Linked DNA regions of Homo sapiens: all the other regions are linked to region 3. The links come from fine-mapping of genetic effects on gene expression. A gene starts in region 3. Each other region holds a variant in brackets. All regions are shown on one strand. Distances are from middle to middle.

Region 1 (8,184 bases), 95 kb after region 3:
TTTACCCAGAAGGATCATAGAATCAAAGAAATGATCTAATTCAGCCACCTCATTTTACAAATCAGTAGAGAACCTTTTAGGTTAAATGACACAGCCAGGTTTTAGCAGATCACTTGGCTCCTAGACCAGCATTCAATCCCTAAATGATCAATGTGTTAGCCATAAGTAATTCTTTTAAGTAATTTTTTTCATTTCTTTTAGAGTTTTGAAAATTACATGAGAAATACATGAGTGTATAACTATTATAAAATAGTACAGGAATAGAAAGTAAAGTCTACCTCCATACAAACATGCTGTTTAATCCATTCTCTCCAGAGGGTATCATCATTCATTCTTTCAGAAGAAACTTGTGTATGCATTTACATATCTATGTATAAAAACTCGGGGGGCATTTAAAATCGAGTCACCTAGGGATCTCTTTCTTGGACCATATTGGTATAAACTTTATGGGCAGAAGCAGAAGTTTCTGAGATCCTTATTTCTCTCCCAGATGAATCTGTCAGATGTAGCATATTGTGGTTAATGTAGGTGTTTCACAGACCTGCTTATGTACCATCAAGCTTTATCATATTCTAAAGTTCAAAAGTGAGTTCCAATATGCATTATTGAGTTGAGTTCCAATATGCACTATTGTGTTTTCTTACTGGAAATACAATTTCTGTTCTTAACACCATCAACTAAGCTCCCTGTACTGTGAGAAAAGAAAGTGAGTAACCGACCTATGAAATCCATATAGATTTCCTCCACAGGACTTTCTTGGCTTCCCTGTCTCTGCAGAGGCACACAATATTATAGAAAACAGAAGCCAAAAGAATAATCTTGTGCAATTTTTTTTTTTTTTTTTAGACAGGGTCTCACTTTGTCATTCAGGCTTGAGTGCCCTGGTGTGATCTCAGCCCACTGCAGCCTCAATCTTCCAGGCTCAAGCAAGCCTCCAGCCTCAGCCCCCCAAGTAGCTGGGACTACAGGTGTATACCACCATGCCAGCTAATTTTTTATATTTTTCGTAGAGATGGGGTTTCACCATGTTGCCCAGCCTGGCTTGTGCAATTTCGTTTTTTGAAAAAATAGCTAATGGAGATTCTGATAATTCTTATTGTTTCCTGGTCAACTTCTGTGTCTTTCCTAATTTTCAAGCTGTCAGTAGAAATGATGAACTGTAGCAGGCCAGAAGCTCAGCTTCATTTGGTCACTTTTTCCTTTCCTGTCTTCTTGCCCATCCAGCTTTCCCCTTTCTGATGGTGTCTTCTTATTTCTGACAATGCTTGGGAGCGAGCTGTGTGACACCCAGATTTTACGAGTTGCCAGCGGTGGAGAGGAGAGAGCCGGGCATGCAGATTCTTCATGGACCCTACTAGAGAGGACAGAGAAAAAGAGCACTGGTGTAGGAGCCCACGGGTCTGGCTCTTAACCCTGGCCTGGTGACTTCAGCTATTTGACCTTGAGCAAGTCACTTCATTTCTCCTTTAGCAACATCTCTAAAATGAGGGAGTGAGCAAAAATGTTCCCTTAGATTTCTTCTAATTCAGAAATACCAGTTGATTCTTATTTAAATATGAACATGACCAAAGCATGTGCAGTCTGTAAAGCTGGAGAGGTGCCCAGCACCTTGGTGTTTCCATTTGTGCGGTAGCCCCCCTCATGTGAGCCCTGTACGTGAACATATGAAATCTTATGCTGCATCCACATTCAATAAGAAGAAATTGCTTTTTCAGTGTCTGTGGGAGGAGATAAGCTGCAGGTGCTGTTTATTTTCCCAAAGGACTTTATATATGAAACACAGGGTTTATTAAATGTATCAAATGCAATAAGAGAAAAATCTGTCATCTGATGTTGAGATAGCATACTGGGAGCCAGGTCGGGGTACTGCATTTGCTCACCAGAATCAGATCAAACGAGATACGAGTCCTTTGGTTTGATTGGATTCATCATGAGGCAGCATGGGTTTGCACTTGTAGAAATCAAAACTGTTAGGTCAGGTAGTAAAGCCAATCCTTGAACTTACATCTTTAGTTAAGGCATCAAAGAATTGTAAGTTGCTTTGCAATGATGCCATCTCCACATGGTCAGATTCTTCCAGTAAACTGTGCAGATATTTTACAGAATAAGAGCTAAGTTTCAGCATGTCAAGGAATGATCTGTACTCAAGTGTTAGTAAACAAGGGTTTTTTTGTTTGTTTGTTTGTTTTGAGACAGTCTCTGTCATCCAGGCTGGAGTGCAGTGGCATGATCATAGCTCACTGTATCCTCAGACTACTGGGCTCAAGTGATCTTCCTGCCTCAGCCTCCTGCGTAGCTAAGACTACAAGCGCATGCCACCACCCCTGGCTAATTTTTTATTTTTTATGGAGAAGGGGTCTCACTATGTTCCCCCAAGCTGGTCTTGAACTCCTGGACTTAAGCAATCCTCCCACCTCAGCTTCCCAAAGAGTTGGGATTAAAGGCGTGAGCCCCCATGTCCGGCCAACAAGACTTCCTCGTGACTATAATGTGAGCATAATATTAATAGCTCTGAGAGAGAGAAGTGAACCAGAAGACCAACCTCAGTGTCAGGAAGTCTGGGCGTCTGTCTTCTGCATGGCTGAAGACATGGGGCTTTGGGCAAGTCATCTGTTCTCTTTGAACTTTGGCTTCCTCACTTCTGAAATAGGAGGGTCAGAGAAGATGTTTCTTTTTGCTGAAAAGTTTTACAGTTCTCTGATCTATACCCCTTGGTCACACACAACCAAAAAGTAGAAAACATGAGTGCAATACTTTTCCACCAGTACTCCCAGTTTATACATTATCTTCTCAAACCAATAAGGAACTTCTACAAGGCCCTGTTAGTGATGTGTTACAGGTGCCAGCATTAGGGAAACTTTCAGACTGTTATATCTATTCGTTCCTTCATCCATGTATACTATTCATTCTGTATGCAGAGTAATTTATATATGTACAATTACATGGCAGTGAAAGATAATCAGAAAAATGAAGTTTTTTTTTTTTTTTTGAGATAGTTTTGAGACAGAGTCTTGCTCTGTTTCCCAGGCTGGAGTGCAGTGGTGTGATCTTGGCTCACTGCAACCTCCGCCTCCCGGGTTCAAGGGATTCTCGTGCCTCATCCTCCCGAGTAGCTGGGACTACAGACATGCGCCACCATACCCAGCTAATTTTTGTATTTTTAGTAGAGATGGGGTTTTGCCATGTTGGCCAGGCCATTCTCGAACTCCTGGCCTCAAGCGATCCTCCTGCCGGCTTCCCAAAGTACCGGGATTCCAGGCATGAGCCACCATGCCCAGTCAGAAGGTTTTTTTT[T/A]AAAAAACACACTCCTGAACTAACAATTACAAAGAGCTAGTGACAATTTCCCAAATAATTATGCATAACAGGAGCCCATATATTGTTCTCAAATCATAAACCATAACTGATTTTGAGGAAAAGACATTCTGTCCCACTGATATTCTTTTCATGAGTAAGATCTGGATCTGTCTGGAGGCACAGAATTAATTTTTGCATGAGGAATCCCAACCCTACCATCATTCCATGGCTGAGGAATTGGTTATTACTCCTATGGGAAATTGGGAATGTTGTTGGTACCCCAGCCTTCTCTTAAGACAAAATTTAACAAATGCATACATGCTAAGATGCTTATACTCATAAGGCTTTGTGGGTCTCCTTTCTAAGGGGAATTTGAATACTAACAAGAACAAAGGCTAAATACCAAAAGGGGGCTTTCTAATGGTAGAATTTGGGATATCAGGTAGCCACATAGAGCAGGGCTACTTTGGGGGCTGGAGACTGCAGAAACCCTTCAGTTTATACGTGTGAGTAAACCTAATCACACTTGATGTATTGCTAGTGAAGTCCCAGCCCCCTGAGCCTTTGCAGAAACCCAAAGAATGCTAAAAAGGGCAGGTTTTAGTTCCTGCCAATTATTTCATTTACTACAAATGCCCCGAGTTCCGAATTTACTTCCCTCCCCACCAGAAATATGTCATTTTGGAGGCTTGTGAAAATTAAGCATTAAGAAAATCCCGCCTCCATCCTAATACACTGCATCCACAAGTCCCAAACAAAATCACTTCCTTGGCCTACACACATAACTACCTGTTTCTGTTTAGGTCTGTGACTCAGAAAGTGCCTGGAAGAAGTCATGAGAGGGAGTCGATCCCATCTTACCTGCCATAGGAAGAATAGGGCCTGCTCAGTAGAGTTCAGTGTGTGTGTTGAAGGTGGTGGTTCTTAGTCCTTCCCTGAATTCACTAATTCGCATTGCACTCACTCTTCCTGATCAATGAGTTATTGCTGAGAAATCATTGTAGTAAGTAATACAGGTATCCCCAGTAAAGCCATCCCTCTCCTCCATACCTCCGCTGTCCCTTGGGTTTTGGCTCCAGGATCCTTGCCCCATGTCCCAAAGAATCCCTACCTTGGGCCTCCCTCCTCCTCTTTTGTCAATTGCACTTGACCTTTTCAGGAAAAAGAAATCAATTGATACCTTAGTCCTAATGTTTGACCCTTTTCTATCTCAGAATAGAGAAGTCCCTGTATTTGTTCTTTTTTTACTCAAGTTTAATATAGACCACCTAGGCACAGAAGCTCCGTGCTATATTCTGTTGCCTGTAATTGTCCTTCCATCTAATTGGGAAAAGGTTACTCTATTGAACCATCTGCTGATTCCCTTACCTTTTCACTCTTTTGTCAGTATTCCTTTACCAGTAAATTCTTGGTTATCTAGGTCCTGAAGTTTCATTCATGTTTTTTTTAAAAGCTTTAATTTTTCTTAGGAAAACTGTTTCTCTCATCTTAAAGCAGACTATGATCTTTTCTACTTTGTTATACAATCTGAACATAATGAACACTCTAAAGTCAGGCATGGATTTTATCATAAAAGCAGATCGTATTAAGATTTTTTTAAAAAAGAACCAGGATTGAGGAATCTGTAGCTAATAATTTAATAATTCACCAGCATGTTTTGGGCTCCCACTTCATGCTGGCCACTGGGCTAGGCACTGAGGGTGCAGAAGCAAACAAATCAGCCTCCTGGCCCTCAGATTTGCATTCCAGTGAGTCCATTCATAAAACCTAACTCAAAGCCAGCAACACCCCCAAAAGGGCTGTTGGAAGCTTTGTAGCTCATCTGTACAGCTGTCTTGATTCCTGTACGGGATCTTACTTTCTTGGGAAAATATGTTCTAAATCCTGTTTCCTTGGGCCATTAAAAATCCATGCTGTCCCTAATCAATATATAGTTATGTGTGACCTTCTTAGAATTAAAAAAATGCCGCTGGACAGCCTTTGAAGGGAAAGGCAGAGAAATCTGTTTTGATGGCTTGAAAATAAGTGAAAAGGTTTTTAGGGAAAGCTAACAAGCTTTCAAAGATTTCAGATCTGCCAGCATTCATTCATTAAGGCATGGGATTAGGCCAAAAGAGCCTCCTACCAAGGGAGAGACAGGAACCATGTAAGGAGATCTGTGAGACCGCAGTGGAAGAGTATTGAAATAGAAGCCAGACCTGTAGACGTATTTGTTAATATGTGTGCCAAGCCAAAGTACAGGAGGAGGCTTGGAGGCATGGAGTTGTGGTGGAAGCAGGTTCTGAAAAGCAGAACTCTGAAGCTGGCTCATTCTCACGAAGTCATCTGGCCCAGCCTCCCGCCTCCAAGCACATCCTGCCTGCAGAGGGTCTGGCTAGCTGCCTTTTCAGCTCTCGAGGGATAGAGATTCTACAACCTCCCTCTGTCATCAGTTCCAGAGCCACTCCCCTTTGCACTAGAAGTTCTTGCTTTCAAAGAATGAGGGTGTGAGGGAGGGAGGGGTCAAGAAACAGAGTGACAGGGGAAACAGGCAGAACAAGTCAGGGCAAAGGACCCCAGCATGAAGAGTTGTGGAGGTGGAGGTGGGGAAGCAGCCTCACATCTCACACTTCCTTCCTTCTCTTAAATGTGAGCAGCTGACTCCAAGCCTTGTGGAAACTCTAGAAGGTAGAACCAGCCATCTGGGGAAGCTGGCCTTACAGATGCCCCGTCTGGCATAGTGGAGGTTCCTGTGCTCTGAGAACGCAGTGTGAATCTAGACATCCACTGCAGCCTGGGAAGAGCTGTGTTTTCTTCAAAAGTCTTTAACTTTCACAGTCACCCCTCTAAAGAAATGTTCTCTGATTGAAGGCATGCTTCTATTCCTACTTTATTGTGTTTCATGCATTCTGCCAGAGTAATTACTTTTCATACCAATTCTTGGATGCAGAGAAATCTCTGGTAGTCTAAGGGGATTTCGATCCAAGTAAAGCTACTATCTCCTATTCCATCCAGACTTTTCCGTCTGCCTCCATTCTCTCAGTCACATACCTAGAAGCAAGCCAGAAAGCCTGTCCAACCAAAATCACTCTCCAAAGCCCAAGCACTTTATTGTTCTCCCTGTCTGTTATCGAGCCAAGGTGTATTTGGCCTCATTTTATGCCATTAGTTGTCTGGCTTTCATGGCTCTGCACCACATTACAGTCAGAGCAGGAAGGCCAGCAGTGGAGATAGAATTATGGCAGAAACCCAGAGTAGAGGCCTCTGCTGGTGAGGGAGCCTGCAGCACTCTCCACGCTGGTGGGTCCTAGCATGCCCAACAGACCCCCATCCCTTCCCATCAGCCTTGGGCCTTGAGTCTCATTCCAACTCATCCCCTCCCCTTTCCCTTCTTTCCAGTCCCAGGTGACACTTGATGCCTCTGACTCCTTTGAAGAGGGCATCAAGAAGTGAAAGAACAAAGTCCTTTTCTGTTCGGGATCTGGGCCCATCCTGGGAGAGGTTTTTGGCAGAAATGGCTGCAGTGGAACCCTCTGACTGCCAGGGTGAAATAGTGCTCCAGCAGGCTGCGGTAGACTCACTGCCAGAGTGGGTCAGGACTGGCCCAGAGGACAGGGTCGTCTCTTGAGAGTCCTCCCAGCTCCAGGGCCTGATTTTAAAGCAGTAACACGAGGATATAGGTTATATACAGGCTCCTGGAAGGCAGGTGCCGCAGCTCCTGTGACACCCCATATGCCTGAGCAAGCTTCTCCAGCACAAGAGATGATGCAAGTATGAATGGGTACGGGGGGAGCTTAAAACCTGCCAACACTGAGACTTGATGCCAGGGGCCGTGCACCCGCTCTGCCACCTGCTAGGTCTGTGCAATGGTCAGAGCAGAGGTGTGTGATGAGTTCAGCTCCCAAGCACATCCACACTTAGGAAGTGTTCTGTGTGTTTTTAAATAATCCTTACCATGTAAAGATTGTATTACATTTGTATACAAAATTTTTTTGCATTTTACTTTTGTAATATTTGGGGTTTTATAGATTTTTATTTTATGGCCAAGTATACTTTTGTAAGGAAATGTTGAAGTCTTGAGTATTTTTATTCTTTTAAAAAACTATAGTTAGTGTCAACTGTGAGCACTGATAAATATTATTCATGTGTGGTTTTCCTTCTTTTTAATCCAGACTTTTTAAGAAACTGTTTTGGCATAGAGCTTTACTTAAAATGCTGCTTCATTTTACACATTGTGAATACTGAAGATTCTAAAAAATAAAGATGCATTTAAAATCTCTGTGCTGTTCCATTGTAGAAATGGTAATGTGCATTGCTTTGCCAAAGTGGTAATTAAATGTTTAATGGTTTAGAACTCCTAGTTCACAACAGGGCTTCTCGTCATCACTTGCAGCGTGTGAGCTTCCAAATAAGCCGCCATTTCTTTGGAAAACGCACGCACTTAGGCATGGCGATCTCCTGTTCCGTTAGGAAATACGGTTATGTTGACATTATGGTTACTGTGCTTGTGGTTTTGCAATAAACATGTATTGAAAGCACTTGTGATAACGTGGTCCGCATTTTGTTTTTAATCAAACTCCAAATGGCAGTAGAAGTGGAGCCAAAGCTTCCTGAGCGTTCGGGCAGCAAGATGTGGTGAGAAAAAAAATACGAGTAAGGAAGCAGAGGCGGCTGGGCCAAATCCTTCTCCTCCGCAGCAAGCCCGGAGACGGGGATTCCGTTGTCTCTTTTGGAAATCCCCTGTCCTCATTCATTTAAAAAACATAAAATCAGGGAGGGAGATAATTACATTTACCTTTGCCTGGATTTTATGGTGTTGGAATAGAGTGAGGAGCACAAAGCTCCTGGCACATTTTGATTGCCTCATACGTGTTCCTGGCCTTCTTCCCTCCCTTCCCTCTTGAGTCTTCA
Region 2 (8,184 bases), 87 kb before region 3:
AGATGAGGGAGTGAGACTTAAAGGGGTTAGGTAATTTGCCCACATCCCCCAACTAGCAAATGGTAGAGCCAGGATTGGAATTTGTTCAGGCTCTTAACCATTGCACTCTTTCAAAATGTTAAAAATAATGTTGTGTCTCATTTTAAAAAATTAAATAAAAACTCTTTGGACCAAGCATCAGTTATGGGAATGAATTTCATTCCTTGTCTCTTTTGACACCAAATATCAAGACATTCTTTCCCAGCTAGGCATGGTGGCTCATACCTGTAGTCCTTACTACTCGGAATGCTGAGGTGGGAGGATCACTTGAACCCTAGGAGTTTGAGGCTGCAGTGAACTATGATCATGCCACTGCCCTCCAGCCTGGGTGGACAGAGCAAGACCCTCTCTCTTAAAAAAAAAAAAAAAAACAAAAAAAAAAAACAAAAAACAAAAAACAGTCATAGTTTGCTTTCCTTTCACTCCCATAGATGCTTAGCTTCCATGGCTGTAATAACTGCTCTGCATTACTCCTTAGTGACCCAGGCAGGGCAGCTTTGAAAATCACTTGGTTACATTCCCTCTCCTCTGTTCTCTTGACCTCTCTAATCTAGCCCGATTAATCTGCTCACATTCACTGATGAAAAAGCTTCCGGGGCTGCTCCCTTTCTGTCAGGGAGTCCAGATGTCTTGGCACTCGAGGTGGGCCCCCTAGTTTACCCCCAGTGTAACATTTCTAGCCTGGAGCATACCATTTTGCTGCAGAAGCTCTCTCAGATCAAATTAATCTGTTCACAGCTCACAACCCACCATGCCTATGTTCATGCTGCTCCCTGTCTTGCTCTGCCTGCTGAAATTCTTCCCATTTCTCAAACCCCACATTGCCCATGGTATCTTCACTAGTTACTGAAACAGCTTTCTCTGGACTCCTTCAGTGATGCCATACCATTCATAGATTACTTTTTGACTGCTCTCTTTTTTTCCTAAGTGTCACTTCAATAAGTATTTAGTCACACTTTGTCTTATGTTGATATTTCAATCACTGAAACCGTAGTCATCTTAGTTGTCTCCAATTGTGCCAAGCCCAGTGCCTCAAATATAGTAATCATTGATGAATGCTTTTTGTTAAAATTTGAAACAAATTTTTGGTTTTGTCTTTAAGACCGATGTTGTTGTCAACTCCGTTCCCTTGGATCTCGTGCTTAGTAGAGGGCCTCTTTCTAAGTCCCTCTTGGAAAAAGCTGGACCAGAGCTCCAGGAGGAATTGGACACAGTTGGACAAGGGGTGGCTGTCAGCATGGGCACAGTGCTCAAAACCAGCAGCTGGAATCTGGACTGTCGCTATGTGCTTCACGTGGTAGCTCCGGAGTGGAGAAATGGTAGCACATCTTCACTCAAGGTTGGGCCTGGTTTTGAATTCTCCATGAAGTTGGGTAGCCCTTTGGGTTCTCCTTTTAGTAGCATATTAATTGGACATAGATTGGGCCTTGTCTGTTTCTCTTCCATAATAATCACTCTTTTGGCAGATTCCATCATGTGGCCATTTCTTTCAGCTGTAGCTGACTTCTCCTGAGGACTAGTTAATACTATAAATGGATTATTGTGCTCAATAATTATTGGAGCTCAGGGAAGGGTTACTGAAGATAATATTATTGCTTGCTTAGTGAAGAAAGCCAGAGGAGGGTGTGAAGAATGGAAGAGAATGAAGGAAAAGAACAGTAGTTGCTTTGCTTCTTTCCTTCATTGTGAATGTGTTTAAGTCTCTCGCATTCTCTTTTCCTTTTCCTTGCCTTCTCCTGTATTTTTCTTTCCTCTTCTGATTGCCCTTAATCAGTGTTGACAGCAAAAAGGAGTATTCAAGTTCACAAAGTTGCTAAATTCTTGTCCTTTTTGTTCTAACTCCCATTTCTAGACAAGATGTATAAGGATGTGCTTTGTGCGTTTCAGATAATGGAAGACATAATCAGAGAATGTATGGAGATCACTGAGAGCTTGTCCTTAAAATCAATTGCATTTCCAGCAATAGGAACAGGAAACTTGGGATTTCCTAAAAACATATTCGCTGAATTAATCATTTCAGAGGTGTTCAAATTTAGTAGCAAGAATCAGCTGAAAACTTTACAAGAGGTTCACTTTCTGCTGCACCCGAGTGATCATGAAAATATTCAGGTACAGTGCCACTAATTTCTGATTATTTTGGCAACTGAGACCTAGTGTTTTTTCAAATGTCTTTTTGGTCTAACAGGATACTTTTTTCATTCATTTCCCCATTCAGGAAAGTAAGAAGGTAGTTTATACTTGTAGTTGTAGTTGTAGCATGACAAATTTTAAGAAAAGTTACAGATGTAGAAAAAATTTAACTTCCTATTCAGGAAAATTTTGAACATATCCAAAAGTAGACATAATAGTATAATGCAGTCCCTTGTACCTATCACTGAACTTCAACAGTTATCAACCTATGGCCAATATGTTTCATCTCTATCTTCATCTATTTCCCTTCCTTCTATATTCTTTTGAAGCAAATCTCAGACATATCATTTTATCCATAAACAATTCAACATTTATTTTAAACAATAACAATTCTTTTTAAAAAAGTAACATAACCACAATATTGTATCACACCTAAAATAAATGGACAATAATTCCTTTAACCAATTATCAAATCAATTCTCAAATTTCTGACTATCTCATAAACGTTTTGTTTTTACAGCTTTGTGTTTGAATCAGAATCCAAATAAGGCCCACATATTGCAATGGAGTTGACTATAGGATTTCCCTCCATATGGACATAGAAATTTTAATACATAGTATAAAAGCACAGTCTGGCCTTATCAATAGGAAGATGTCAGAAGGTGTGGTTAGAATGGATTAGCACATTCCCATGTAAATAGGAGAGTTGGGACCAGAAACACCAGAACTATCATCAATCATGAGTTCATGATTCAGCTCACATCAGCTGTGGGAGAGCCACTGGACTCAGCATTATGGCAGCACAACAGGCTTTTAAGCCATTATCCCTGCACTCCGAGTCTTTACTTAATCAAATAAAGTAGATGACATTCAGTGTTTGAAAAGCTCCCAAGGTACTGCAAAAATTGATCAAACAGATTAAGATCAGCAACCCAAGAGATACCTGTGGATCATTGGACCATCTGAATTTTTAGGTAATGCTTCATTTTTCTGTGATGCTAGATACTACCTATAAGTTCTTTGGAAGCAAGTAAATCTGACCTGAATTCTGATCAGGCAGCCAAACCACCTGAGTAAAATATGTGGTCCATTTACTTGTCCCGTATAATTAGTTACTCTTCTGTGCAACAGAAGCTTTTAAAATAATTTCCCTATGACTTGCATTGTGCAAGGTGATGTGGATCGTGGAACAGGACGAATAGGAATAGCACATACTTTCCCTCCTATAAATCACAATTACTTTGGAGCTAAGATTTATATACACAAAATGAACTAAATGAGAGGCATGAAGTGCTGTTTTTGAATGCATGGGTGATTGAATACAGCATGAGTCCTGTGACACAGACCTGAACCTTCAAATATCACTCTTTTTCATGCAACCTCAGCATTCATTTTCTTTCCTGAAGACTGAGTATTTTTCAAATACTCTGTAAAAAGAATTAGTCTATACAGATGCCTTTAGTACCATTTGAAATTCTCTGTATGTGTCTGTTACACTTTTTCTCTTTAGACTTTTAAAGACAGTTAAACTTTGGTTACATTTGCACAAAAAAATCAGCAAAGCTTATCGAGATGTTTATAGATGGAGACTGTCACAGAGG[A/T]TGCAAAGCAGCAGTCCTGTGATTTGAACATGGCCTCTAGATGTGCTTTATTTAGATTATTAAAAAAAAATTTCAATCAGTTGCTAACATTTAAAAATCAAAAATTTTACATAAAACTCTAGATATTCACTACAACCTAAAACTTCAAAACTTCTGGCACATTAAACATGGCTTCCTGCTTGGGACAGGAAGTTTTCCATGGCTGAGTGGCAGGTGTTCTCTAGTTCTCCATAGTCAAATCAGACCACCTTTACACATGTGCCTTACCTACCTGGCTCCTAGAAGCCTGTGAGTCTGAGATCTTTGCTCTACCCTCTCTCTGGTTCCTTCTCCCATTATTGCATCTATCTTTAGCCAAGATGTTACTTGTTTTTTTTCCAACAAAATTATCTGTTGCTTGTTTACAAGGAGGAAGAAAATGATGATTATGGAGGGTCACCAACAGGCAAAAAAAAAAAAAATGAAATTCACAGGTTTATTAACACTAGAATACATACACCAGCTACTTGCTCCAAAAATCATGACTCCTCAGCCCCTCCTCTTTTGGTACAAATAGGAAATTAAAAACGGAAGTGTTTGGGACCTTGTGATGGTCATTCTCTTAACATTGTAGTTTTTACAATTGGCAAGTTATTTGCTTTGACTGACCATTATGGTAATTCATGTTCATTGTAGAAACTTTGAACAATGCAAAATGCATAAATTCTTTAGTTGGATTTTATTCCAGCCTGCTTTTTTTTACATATGTACTTTTAAAAGTGGGATTGGCTCGGAGCGGTGGCTCATGCCTGTAATCCCAGCACCTTGGGCAGCCAAGGCAGGCAGATCACCTGAGGTCAGGAGAACAGCCTGGCTAACATGGTGAAACCCCGTCTCTACTAAAAATACAAAAATTACCTCCCAAGTAGGCTGAAGCAGGAGAATCACTTGAACCTGGGAGGCGGAGTTTGCAATGAACCAAGATTGTGCCACTACACTCCAGCCTGGGTGACAGAATGAGACTCCATCTCAAATAAATAAATAAATAAATAAATAAATAAATAAATAAAGGATTGTGATTATAAATTATTTTATTTAATATCCTTCGCTTTTATTTTCTATTTCACTAAATCTTCTTTGAGGCTGGGCACAGTGGCTCACACCTTTAATCCCTGCACTTTGGGAGGCCAAGGCAGGAGGATCACTTGAGGCCAGAAGTTCAAGACCAGCTTGAGCAACATAGGGAGATCCTGTTTCTACAAAAAACAAACAAACAAAAAAACACAAAAAACAAAAAACGTAGCTGGGTGTGGTGCCATATACTTATAGTCCCAGCTACTTGGGAGGCTGAGGTGGGAGAATTGCTTAAGCCCAGGAGGTCGAGGCTGCAGTGAACTGTGATCACGCCTCTAGCATTCCAGCCTGGGCGACACCCCAGCCTGGGCAACACAGCAAGACCTCATTTAAAAAATTCTTTGAAAATACGATTTTTAATGGCTAATAAATACTCCAACACATGGATACAGCAACATTTATTTAACTTTTTCCCTGTTGAATTTTTAACTGTTTTTTCTCTGTTATGAATAGCACTGTAGTGAATATCCTTGTATTTATCCACATCGTTGTCCACATCGTTGATATTTTCATTAGACACATTTATAGAAACAGAATCATGTGTTGTTTTTATAACTTTCAAGATCTGCAATGAAATTAAATAATACTGTTTGAGAATGGTTATCTCCCAAATATGTATGTGTGCATGCAGGACAAAACACCCTGATGATTCCAATTTATTCATTTACTGAGGAGTGTAATGATCAACGCTGTGTTTATATTTCAGGCATTTTCAGATGAATTTGCCAGAAGGGCTAATGGAAATCTCGTCAGTGACAAAATTCCGAAGGCTAAAGATACACAAGGTTCAGTAAAGCTTCTAAATTGAGAAGTGATTTCTAGTTGCTAAGTAACTGTTCATTGGCAGGTAAAAGACAGTAGTGATAATTTTTATGAAAAAAAAATCAATGAGTGACAAATGATACTAAGTTATGTTTCATATACCTGAGCATGTAAGACACTGGTCATGTTTATATAATCTGAAGCAAAAGGGAAGGCAGGCCAAGTTATGTAATCTGTATAATGGGTTTTAAGTAATGACAAGACTACCATTTCCTGAGGAGAATGTGACATGTATTTTCCAAAATAGACAAATTTGAGAGACAATACTCACCAAATCTTTCACCTTTGTCAAATTTGTTGATGCCATATTTGAGTTTATCCTGTTTGAGTTTCACCGAGGCTTCTTGAATATAAAAATGTATGTCTTTCATCAAATTTGGAAAATTTTAAGTTATCTCTTTAAATGCTTTTTTGTGCACTGATCTATTTCATATCTCCTTCTGTTTTCCAATACTGTGGTGCTAAGCCTTTTGACAGTGTTCCAAGGTCTCTGCAGAGCTGTTCTCCCCATGCCTACCCCCCTCAATCCCACTCATCTTTTTTCTCTCTTGTTCTTCAGATTGGATAATTTATCTTGACCTGCCTTCAAGTTCACTGAGTCTTTTCTCTGTCCTCTATGCTATTGAGCCCATCCAGTGAATGTTTTATTTTAGATACGTATGTGTATGTTCTAAAATGTCTATTTGGTTCTTTTTTAAATTTTTAAATTCTTTAAAGTTTGAACTTTATTTTCATTTGCAATATATTATTATTATGATTATTTCAATAGTTTTGGGGGTACAGGTGGTTTTTGGTTACATGGATAAATTCTTTAGTAGTGATTTCTGAGATTTTAGTGCATCCGTCACCTGAGCAGCATATACTGTACCCGTTATGTAGTCTTTTATCCCTCATCCCCCTCTCAACCTTCCCCCTGGAGTCCCCAAATTCCATTATATCACTCTTATGATTTTGCATCCTCATAGCTTAGCTTTCACTTATAAGTGAGAACATAGGATGTTTGGTTTTGCATTCCTAAGCTACTTCACTTAGAATAATAGCCTCCAGCTCCATCCAAGTTGCTTCAAAAGACATTATTTCATTCCTTTTTATGGCTGAAGAGTATTCCATAGTGTATATACAGCACATTTTCTTTATCCACTTGTTGGTTGATGGACACTTAGGTTGGTTCCATATCTTAAATTGTGCTGCTATAAACATGTGTGTGTATGTTTTTTCATATAATGACTTATTTTGCTTTGGGTAGATACCCAGTAGTGGGATTGCTGGATTGAATGGTAGTTTTACTTTTAGTTCTTTCAGGAATCTCCACACTGTTTTCCGTAGTGGTTGTAATAATTTGCATTCCGACTAGCAATGTAAAAGTGATCCCTTTTTACCACATCCATGCCAACATCTATTGTTTCTTGACTTAAGTTATGGCCATTCTTGCAGGAGTAAGGAGGCATCTCATTGTGGTTTTAATTTGAATTTTCCTGATGATTAATGATGTTGAGCATTTTTTCTTATGTTTGTTGGCTGTTTGTATACCTTCTTTTGAGAAATGTCTGCTCAGATCCTTTGCTGACTTTTTGATGGGATTATTTGTTTTTTTTTTTGTTTGTTTGTTTGTTTTTTCTTGCGATTTGCTTGAGTTCCTTGTAGATTCTAGATACTGGTCCTTTGTCGGATGCATAGTCTTCAAATATTTTCTCCCATTCTGTGGATTGTCTGCTTACTCTCCTGATTACTTTGCTGTGCAGAAGCTTTTTAGTTTAATTAGGTCCCATTTTTAATTTTTGTTTTTGTTGCATTTGCTTTTGGGGTCTTAGTCATGAATTCTTTGCCTAAGTCAATGTCCAGAAGAGTTTTTCCAATGTTATCTTTTAGAATTTTTATGGTTTCAGGTCTTAAATGTAAGTCTTTGCTCCATTTTGAGTTGATTTTTATATGAGGTGAGAGATGGGGATCCAGTTTAATCTTCTACATGTGGCTTGCCAGTTTTCCCAGCACCGTTTATTGAATAGGTATCCTTTCCCCAATTTATGTTTTTGTATGCTTTGCTGAAGATCAATTGGTTTTAAGTATTTGACTTTATTTCTTGACCCTCTATTCTGTTTCATTGGTCTATGTGCCTATTTTTATACCAGTACCTTGCTGTTTTGGTAACTATAGCCTTGTAGTATAATTTGAAGTTGGGTAATGTGATGTCTCCAGATTTGTTCTTTTTGCTTAGTCTTGCTTGGCTATATGGGCTCTTTTTTGGTTCCATGTGAATTTTAGGATTTTTTTTCTAGTTCTGTGAAGAATGATGCTGGTATTTGGATGAGAATTGCATTGAATCTGTAGATTGCTTTGGGCAGAATGGTCATTTTCACAATATTGATAATTCCCATCCATGAGCATGGAATGTGTTTCCATTTGTTTGTGTCATTTCTTTGACCAGTGTTTTGTAGTTTTCCTTGTAGAGATCTTTCACCTCCTTGGTTAAGTATATTCC
Region 3 (8,184 bases):
AGGAATGTTAGTTCTAAGTGAAAATCAATTCCATACAACTCTAGATGAGATATTTCCTCAGAAAGCACTGGAAGAAGAGTTACTAACACATTCTCCTCTTTATCAAGGAATAATCTTGGCTATAACTAAAAACTAAAAAACAGCCCAATAGAGAGAAATATAATAACCTCAGTTTGAAAGATAGAATCACACTCAAATAACTGCAATTTTTAATTTCACTGAATGCTTCAATCTATGTATGATTCTGAGAGTAACATTTCACATTCAGAATTTAAATTAATTCTTAATTAACAATAAGTAGTTTCATGTTTGTTTTTAATTATTTCTAAGCTGTTATTTCAAACAAACAATATCACATTCTTGAAGGCAGACCTCTTACTTTTATCTCCCTAGAGGTTAGTCCAGTGCCTAGCATAAAATGATGCTAAACAAATGTTTCTTTCAAATAACTGTATAAGAATACCTGATTTTTAGCAATGTATAAAACTTTATTGAAACTAAGCACTTGTTTTCTCCACTTCTGTAGAATGAGCTATCAAGCATAACCAAGGTGATTAGTTCCACGATTTTATGCTCACCTCTACCAGTTACCCTTTCCTGCTCCCAAGCACTGACTCACTCCTATCACTCCTAATCACCCGCAACCCTATGGCAATCATGCCAAAGCTTCTTTTTTTTTTTTTTTTGAGACAGGGTCTGGCCCTGTTGCTCAGGCTGGAGTGCCATAGCACGATCTCAACTCACTACAACCTCCGCTTCACAGGTTCAAACGATTCTTGTGCCTCAGCCTCCCAAGCAGCTGGAACTACAAGCGTGTGCCACCATGCCCAGTTTATTTTCGTATTTTCCGTAGAGACAGGGTTTCACTATGTTGCCCAGGCTGGTCTCAAATTCCTGAGCTCAAGCGATCTGCCTGCCTCGCCTCCCAAAGTGCTGGGATTACAGGCATGCACCAGCATGCCTGGATGCTTCTTCACTCTCAAATCTCCAGTACCTTTCTCTACTTCCTTACTTTTGTGGTACCTTGCTCTATTTTTCTGCAAAGACTGAAACCCATGATTTCCCTCTTCGTCACTTCAGCATTTCTGTTTTCACCCTGCTCTTCTCTGGATTCAATGGATACAAGTCTTCCCCTTTTTCACCCAGGTTCTCTGTCATTATTTCTACTTTAGTAGAATTGGTATCCTCACCTGGCTCATCTTCAAGAAATTATCCTAGGAAGCACAAACCAACCCAATTTCTATTAGTTCCTTCTCCTCTCAGCCTCCAAAGTACTTAATGTGTATCATATTGAGTATCATATCCCAGCTAATTACATCTGACCTTTAGGATATGTCTTATACTACTGTTCTTTTTATCTATGTCTTTATTGCCAAAAATGATATTTATAATTATTTTGGGGCAAAGATTGTCTTTTGCTTTACCACATGAAAAAGGTCTGTTTACCATGTGCCATTCAAATATTTTTTGATAATGGAATAAGTTTGCTCAAAAATGAACTTTTCAGCTGGGCACAGTGGCTTATGCCTGAAATCCCAGTGCTCTGGGAGGCTGAGGTGGGAGCATCACTTGAGGCCAGGAGTTCGAGACCAGCCTACGGAACATTGTGAGACCCTGTATCTACAAAAATAAAAAATAAACCAAAAATTTTAAAAATGAACTTTTCTATGACTCCCATTGTATTCATCATTGTACTGAACATACTGACCCTTTCACTTGACTTTATTTAATGTATTTATTTTTCTCATTCTCTTACATAACATCTCTAATTTCTTTTCTTTCAGTTTCAACATCAGTTACTAAGGCTGGCACTTTCTATTAATAATAAAAATGGTCACGATTCTTGAATATCCAATTCCTGCCAGATACTATGCTAGATAATCTACACATATTAACTCTAATCTTCACAATAATCATGCATTTTACAGAGGAGGAAACTGAGGCTCAAAGGGATTAAGTACCTTGTCCTCCAGTCTTTCTCCCTCCAATCGGTCTTCTACCCTTCAGCCAAAGTGATCTTCCTACAACCAAATCTAATCATGTTATTTCCCTCACCTAAAGCTCTTTAAGGCTTCCTACTGTCTTAATGTCTAGATTCCTTAACTAGGCCTAAGGTAACCTTCAGGATACCTCTTTTCTTACCACTCCTGACACCAACTTCTTTCAGTTCTTGGACCATGCCATGCTTTCTCCTTTTGCCTCTGGACTTGGCATGGAGTGCCCTTATTCATCCACTCAACAAACATGTGGCATGTGCCAACTATGTGCCTGGCATTGTACTAGCAGCTGGGCACATGGTAGAGAATGAAACAGACATAGGTCCTGCCCTCAAGGTACTTATGATCTAATGGAAAAAACAAATAATAAATAATTACAGATTGTAGTAAGTAAAATGACAGAAGCAGGATGCTGTATTCCAGAACATCTAGGGTTGGGGGGTGCAAGAGAAATCACAGTGACTGTTTTAAATAGTTTGATCTGGTAAGGTCTCAGGTGGTGACATACTTTAAAAGCTAAAGATTAAGCCAGCTATGTGAAAAGCCAAAGGGGAGGTGAGTGACAAGAGATCCTGCTAAAGACATCAGCAGAGCCCAGACCAAGGATTATTACAGGCCACGGTTAAGAATCTGGGTTTTATTCTAACTTCTAAGGGCAATGTAATTCGCTGAAGAATTTTACATAAGGAAGAGTCACTTTTTGCTGCAGAGTGGAGAAGGGATTAGAGGGGCACAGAATAGAAAACAGAGACACAAGTCAGTCAGGAAGATACAGTAGTAGTTGAGGTGAGAAAATGTGGATGATTTGAAGTACGGTCTGATAGTGAAAGGAAAAAAGTAGACAGATTAGATGCAGAATTGACCTGACTTGCAAAGTCATTACCTGAAATTAAGAAAGAGGCAGAGAGAGGTTATAGAGTTTGGGAATTTGTCATTGGAGAACGTTAGCAGGCTCACTAGAGAAACAGAGGATCAGAGGGATCTCAAGCCCATACTGACTGAATATTCAAGAGTTTGGCCATTTTCACTTTATACGGTCATCAGTTTGTGCAGGACTTTTTCCAGCAAAGTTCAGGCCCACGGGTGCAGGTACAAAGAGGGCAAAAGGTTGACTTCATCCAGAGTAAGAGTTTTGTCAGAAAAAAGTGCAGGAAGGGACAAGAGAATTTTTCAAAGGAACGACATACATTCTGGATAAGGGGGTGCAGTGGATAGAAAATGGAAAGATCAATGCAATGGAGGTATAGATGAAGGTCAAGAATTGTCTCCCTGGTAGAAAGTGGTCAGATAGTAGGAGGCTATAATTTGTTTCTTCTGCTTGGAATGGGCATCTCCCCCTTCAGCAAACTGTTTGACCCCTAAATACATCCATCCTTTTCTGCTCCCTGACTTCCTGAACCCCAGCACCACTCCCTGAGTTTGTCACCATCTCATCCAATCAGAAAGGCCCACCTCAGCGGATCACAAGGTCAAGAGAGCGAGACCATCCTGGCCAACATGGTGAAACCCCGTCTCTACTAAAAATACAAAAATTAGCTGGGCGTGGTGGCACGCTTGTAGTCCCAGCTGCTTGGGACGCTGAGGCAGAAGAATTGCTTGAACCTGGGAGGTGGAGGTTGCAGTGAGCCAAAATCGCGCCACTGCACTCCAGCCTGGTGACAGAGCGAGACTCCGTCTCAAAAAAAGAAAAAAAAAAAAAGAGAGAAAAGAAAAAGAAAGGCCGACCTCAAACTATTCGCTCCTTGAAGCATTTATGTTCTCCCCACTGAGATCCCTCCTCCTAACAACCCTCACAGAGTGTACTACTGGTAGAATAGTTCAGGTGACCACATAGTAAGTCATTCTTTTTCCTTTCTAGGCTCCTTTGGAAAAGGTATTGTTATAAATATTCAAAAGTCTCTGGATCCTGCGACAGTATTCAGAACACAGCCCTGCACGGTGCAATCATTCAATAAATAATAACAGGGATCTCAGGCTCATGGGCCTCCAAACCTCATCCCCACTTGCTAAACCAGGGTTCACTGAAATAGAATAAAAGCGCATAATCCCTGTTCACAAAAGTCTCAGATAACTTCCATTAATCTCAAAGGTTGCCTTCAATTTCACAAATTTAATTTTAATCCCCTCTAAACGTTCAAAACACCTCTATTTAGCTAATGATGGGCAAATATAAAACAAAACAAAACAAAAATAACACCCCATGCGTGAAACAGCACTCGTAGGCTACCCTACGACGATCAAAAATCTGGATGCCACAATTCGAGAAATGCCACGCTCACTAGAAAATATAGATTTTTCTTCATAGTCTAATGCAAGGCCAGAGAGACCTGGGTTGGGGCTAAGGCAAACGGCCCCACGAGGGGTGCCACGAGAGTCAACTGGCATTGGGTTTGTACTCAGGGTCGGACCTCAGCCTGGCACCTACCTTCCTCCCCTCCAGCCCCAGCCGCAACGATCACAGGAGTGGTCGCCTCGGAGCCTGCTGCCATGGCTACCGCAAGGCGGGTTCTGCCGGAACCCAAGGCGGAGCGGAGCTGGGGTGGGGTCAGAGTAGGGGCCAAACTCCGAGACCCGAAGCTGCACCACAGGAAGGAGCCCCGGCGACTCCCGCCCGGCTCCTACGGAAACGCCGGCTCTCACGTGGAGGTCACGTGACGGATGCTGGGCGGGACCACGCAGCTTTGTTTTGATACCCCGGGTGTGGAAATACAAACACGTGGTCTGAGTTGTGGCGCTTTTTACCTAACCCGGACCTTAGCGTTCTTTATTGTAGTCTTAGCTTCGTTTCTGTTTCTCCTTTTCTAGTCAGATCCTTCCTTTCCACCTCGGCTTTTCTCCACCCTAAAGGATTGGAGTTTTAGGGGAAGGTTTGCCGCTTAGTGGGGCTCCGGCGGTGGGATGGGTCTCTGCCGTGAGCTTTCGCGAGCCGCTCTTGGCAGCCTGGAATGCGAGGCTAGCTCACGCTTCTCTTACACCTCTCTTGCCCTTCTGGTGGTAACCTGACTCCTTCTGATTTTAGTGGCTGCCGGGAAATACGAACCTCGGGCAAAGAATCCTGTGATTGCGTTCCCTGTGACTCATTTCCCGATCCAGACAAGCCAAATTGCTTGACTTTAGGTTTTCAAGGACACTAATCCACAGCTGTCAGGCTTCTGAATTTGTATACCAAAATAAACAAACAGCTGTGTGAAGAGATCAACAACCACCTTTCTTCTCGTTTACCCTGTGGTCAAATCATAATCACTGGAGATGGATCTTTGGGGCAAAAATCTTCCAACTTTACTGGACATACCTTTATTGCTCGCCTATTGGCAGGCGAAATGGGTAAAGTTTACATATATATGAATGAAATTGGCTAGTTTGGAATCTCCTCTTTGGATATGTAAGACAAAAAAGTAACAAAAATAGGTAGTACTTATTGCACGTAAGAAATGATTTTTATGAGATAATCCCCTGGGACCAACTACGCTTAAACTTTATCCTTCGCCTATAATTTCTGAAGTTACTAACTCAACAAAAATGAGAATAAGCCCAAAATAGAAGCAAGCATCAGGTTAACTGACGTCACTTAACAGGTCACTGAGTTGTTTATTAGGCACAAGATTTAACTTGGACACTTCCTCCAAACACCCCAGGGTTCCTTGCCCAACCTCCTCGAATACAGCCTCTCTGGGAGTTTCCCTCTCCCCGACTCAGCCGCGCTGGTCCCTGCCTTTTCAGCGCTACCTGCCCTCCGTCTGGGACCTGGCTCCTTTCCTCTCGCCGGTGTTTCCTCGCCACCCGCGGAGGGGAGGGCGGACCCCAGCCTCCTTGCCGCCTGCCCCGCCTCCCCGCCTCCCCGCCGGCCCGGCTCGGGCCGCGCAGGCGCACCAGGCGCGGTCCGGAGGCCGAGGGCGACCACAGCAGCCTCCGCCTCCTGCTGCTCAGGACTATTCTGCGCTGGGCTAGTCGGCGGTGACCCGGACTGCGCCCGGCAGTGGCTTCGCGGGCGACGCGTCGCCATGGGCTCTCGCTGGAGCAGCGAAGAGGAGAGGCAGCCGCTGCTGGGGCCCGGGCTCGGGCCTGGGCTGGGGGCCTCCTGGAGAAGCCGGGAGGCGGCGGCGGCGGCGCTGCCCGCGGCGGTCCCGGGTCCCGGGCGGGTATACGGGCGCCGCTGGCTGGTGCTGCTGCTCTTCTCGCTGCTGGCGTTCGTTCAGGGCCTGGTCTGGAACACCTGGGGTCCCATCCAGAACTCGGCGCGCCAGGCCTACGGCTTCTCCAGCTGGGACATCGCGCTGCTCGTGCTGTGGGGGCCCATCGGCTTCCTGCCCTGCTTCGCGTTCATGTGGCTCCTGGACAAGAGAGGTGAGGGGTCGCGGAGCGCCAGCCCGCGCTGTCTCTCCTCCGGGAGCAGGCGCCTGCCCGCGCTCCAGGCCTGCCAGCCGCCTCCCTTGGCCCCGGCATAGGGGTTGTGTGAGGTGATAGAGTGTTGCTAGCATTCCATTTCTGACTTAGGAACCCTCCGTCCCCAAAGCGACAAATATGGAAAGGCAACCTTGCAAATATTTATGTTTTTTATCAAGGCCCTTTATGCAACACCAGGGATTTAAGCGATCTCTAAACGTTCAAGTTTTTACACATTGTGAACATCAGAGCATCCCCGTGCACGTGCGGTGTATGTGTTTTACACCTGACAAAAATGACTGATGCTTTGACTTCAAAGGGATATGGGGATGTTGAGGATGAAAGGTCGGAAAATAGATTGACGGTGCCCATATGTAAGGAAATAATGAGTTCGTTTTGTGTAATAGATGACTCCAGCCCAGGAAGAGCTATTGGGAAACTCAGATCTGACACTTTGGTTTCTGGAAGGTGGTGCTCGGCAGCTTTAAAATGTGTGTATGTGACTAGATGGCTTTCTCAGTTGAGATTTGTGACTTTCAATTAAAGCTTGCAGATGAGTGAAGATGCTTGCTTAGAATGGTACCCTGGACATCTCACTTTACCACTTGCCAGTGTGATTCTCTGAGAAGAAAAAGCCATAGGGCTGAGAATCAAGGCATACTTACCACATAAGTATGGATAAATGATTAGTAGTGACAGTCTACCCTCAAGAGGCTGTTGTGCAAGATTTTATATTTATTAATTGAATAATGCCTGGGAGCTACTTTGTACAGTTTCTGTTCAACCTTTTATAAGTTTTGTTGCAATGAGTTCTTTAGTCAGATTTGGAAGGTTGTCTTAGTCCACTGGAGCTGCTATAACAAAATACCATAAACTGGGTAGTTCATAAACACAGAAATTTATTTCTCACAGTTCTGGAGGCTGGGAAGTCCAAGATGAAGGCTCAGGCAGAATCGGTGTCGGGTGAGGGCCTGCTTCCTACACAGTGGTCTCTTCACTATAACATAAGATGGAAGAAGGGGTTAGGGAATCCCTCTGAGGTCTGTTTTATACGGGCAGTAATCCTATTCACATGGGTTCCACCCTCATAACCTAATCACCTTCCAAAGGCTGCACCTTCTTATTCCATCATTTTGAGGGTTAAGATTTCAAAATGTGAATTTGAGGCCTGGCGCAGTGGCTCAAGTAATCCCAGCACGTTGGGAGGCTGGGGTGGGAGGATTGCTTGAGCTCAGGAGGTCGAAGCTGGAGTGAGCTGTGATGGCACCACTGCACTCTGCCCTGGTCAACAGGGCAAGACTCGTCTCAGAAAAATTAATACATAAACAAAATATGAATTTGAGGGGAACACATTCAGACCTCAGCAAAAGTCAAGTGTAGGTAGGTATAGAATTGCAATTGTCTGGCATGTAGTTAGCACTCAAAATTAGTTGGTTATTAAGAGAATAGAATAGCAGGGTGATGTTAGTAGTTATACTTCCTTCTCTCCTCCTTCACTGGAATTCCTTCATTGGAATCCATGTGAAAAAGACTAAGGAATAGTTGATTGTGAATTCCTTAATGATCAACAATATAATGTAGCTGCTAAAAAAGAAAGGACAGTTTAGGCATAGAAACATAGTGTCCAAAACAAGAAGCAAAATAGTTTGATAGGCTCTACATTAGTGTTTAGTTCTGAGCTTGATTCTGAGAAGGCCATTTGACAAACTGCAGAACTTTAAAGGTTCTGCGACAAGAATGATAAAGGGTATAAAAATCATGATGTGTAAAATGAAGGGAACTTGTGTGTATCACACTTCAAAAA

Direction of the effects. Positions count from the first base shown, and alleles are read on the strand shown. Sizes are in standard deviations (SD) of each study's normalised expression. Not every link is listed here.
In carriers of allele A in region 1, the expression in prefrontal cortex of the gene that starts at base 4,637 in region 3 tends to be higher than with T alone (moderate effect, 0.74 SD a copy in CommonMind).

Evidence for each region.
Region 1: its variant is fine-mapped to the expression of HSPBAP1 in prefrontal cortex (CommonMind, PIP 0.93).
Region 2: its variant is fine-mapped to the expression of HSPBAP1 in whole blood (GTEx, PIP above 0.99).

What each region holds. Positions count from the first base shown.
Region 1 is chr3:122,884,606-122,892,789 of GRCh38, forward strand. It overlaps LINC02035 (long intergenic non-protein coding RNA 2035), which reads left to right and starts at 1,908. Exons shown (of 1, transcript NR_024618.1): 1 at 1,908-7,811. RefSeq lists an enhancer at 5,815-5,904. The variant T/A (reference allele first, on the strand shown) is at 3,295.
Region 2 is chr3:122,702,601-122,710,784 of GRCh38, forward strand. It overlaps PARP14 (poly(ADP-ribose) polymerase family member 14), which reads left to right. Exons shown (of 17, transcript NM_017554.3): 7 at 1,142-1,378; 8 at 1,927-2,148; 9 at 5,590-5,668. Among named protein-coding and RNA genes, the nearest start is that of PARP14, 26 kb to the left of the region's middle. The variant A/T (reference allele first, on the strand shown) is at 3,771.
Region 3 is chr3:122,789,195-122,797,378 of GRCh38, forward strand. It overlaps HSPBAP1 (HSPB1 associated protein 1), which reads right to left and starts at 4,637. Exons shown (of 8, transcript NM_024610.6): 1 at 4,423-4,637. The coding sequence starts at 4,486. It overlaps SLC49A4 (solute carrier family 49 member 4), which reads left to right and starts at 5,875. Exons shown (of 9, transcript NM_032839.3): 1 at 5,875-6,341. The coding sequence starts at 5,999. RefSeq lists a silencer at 5,712-6,201.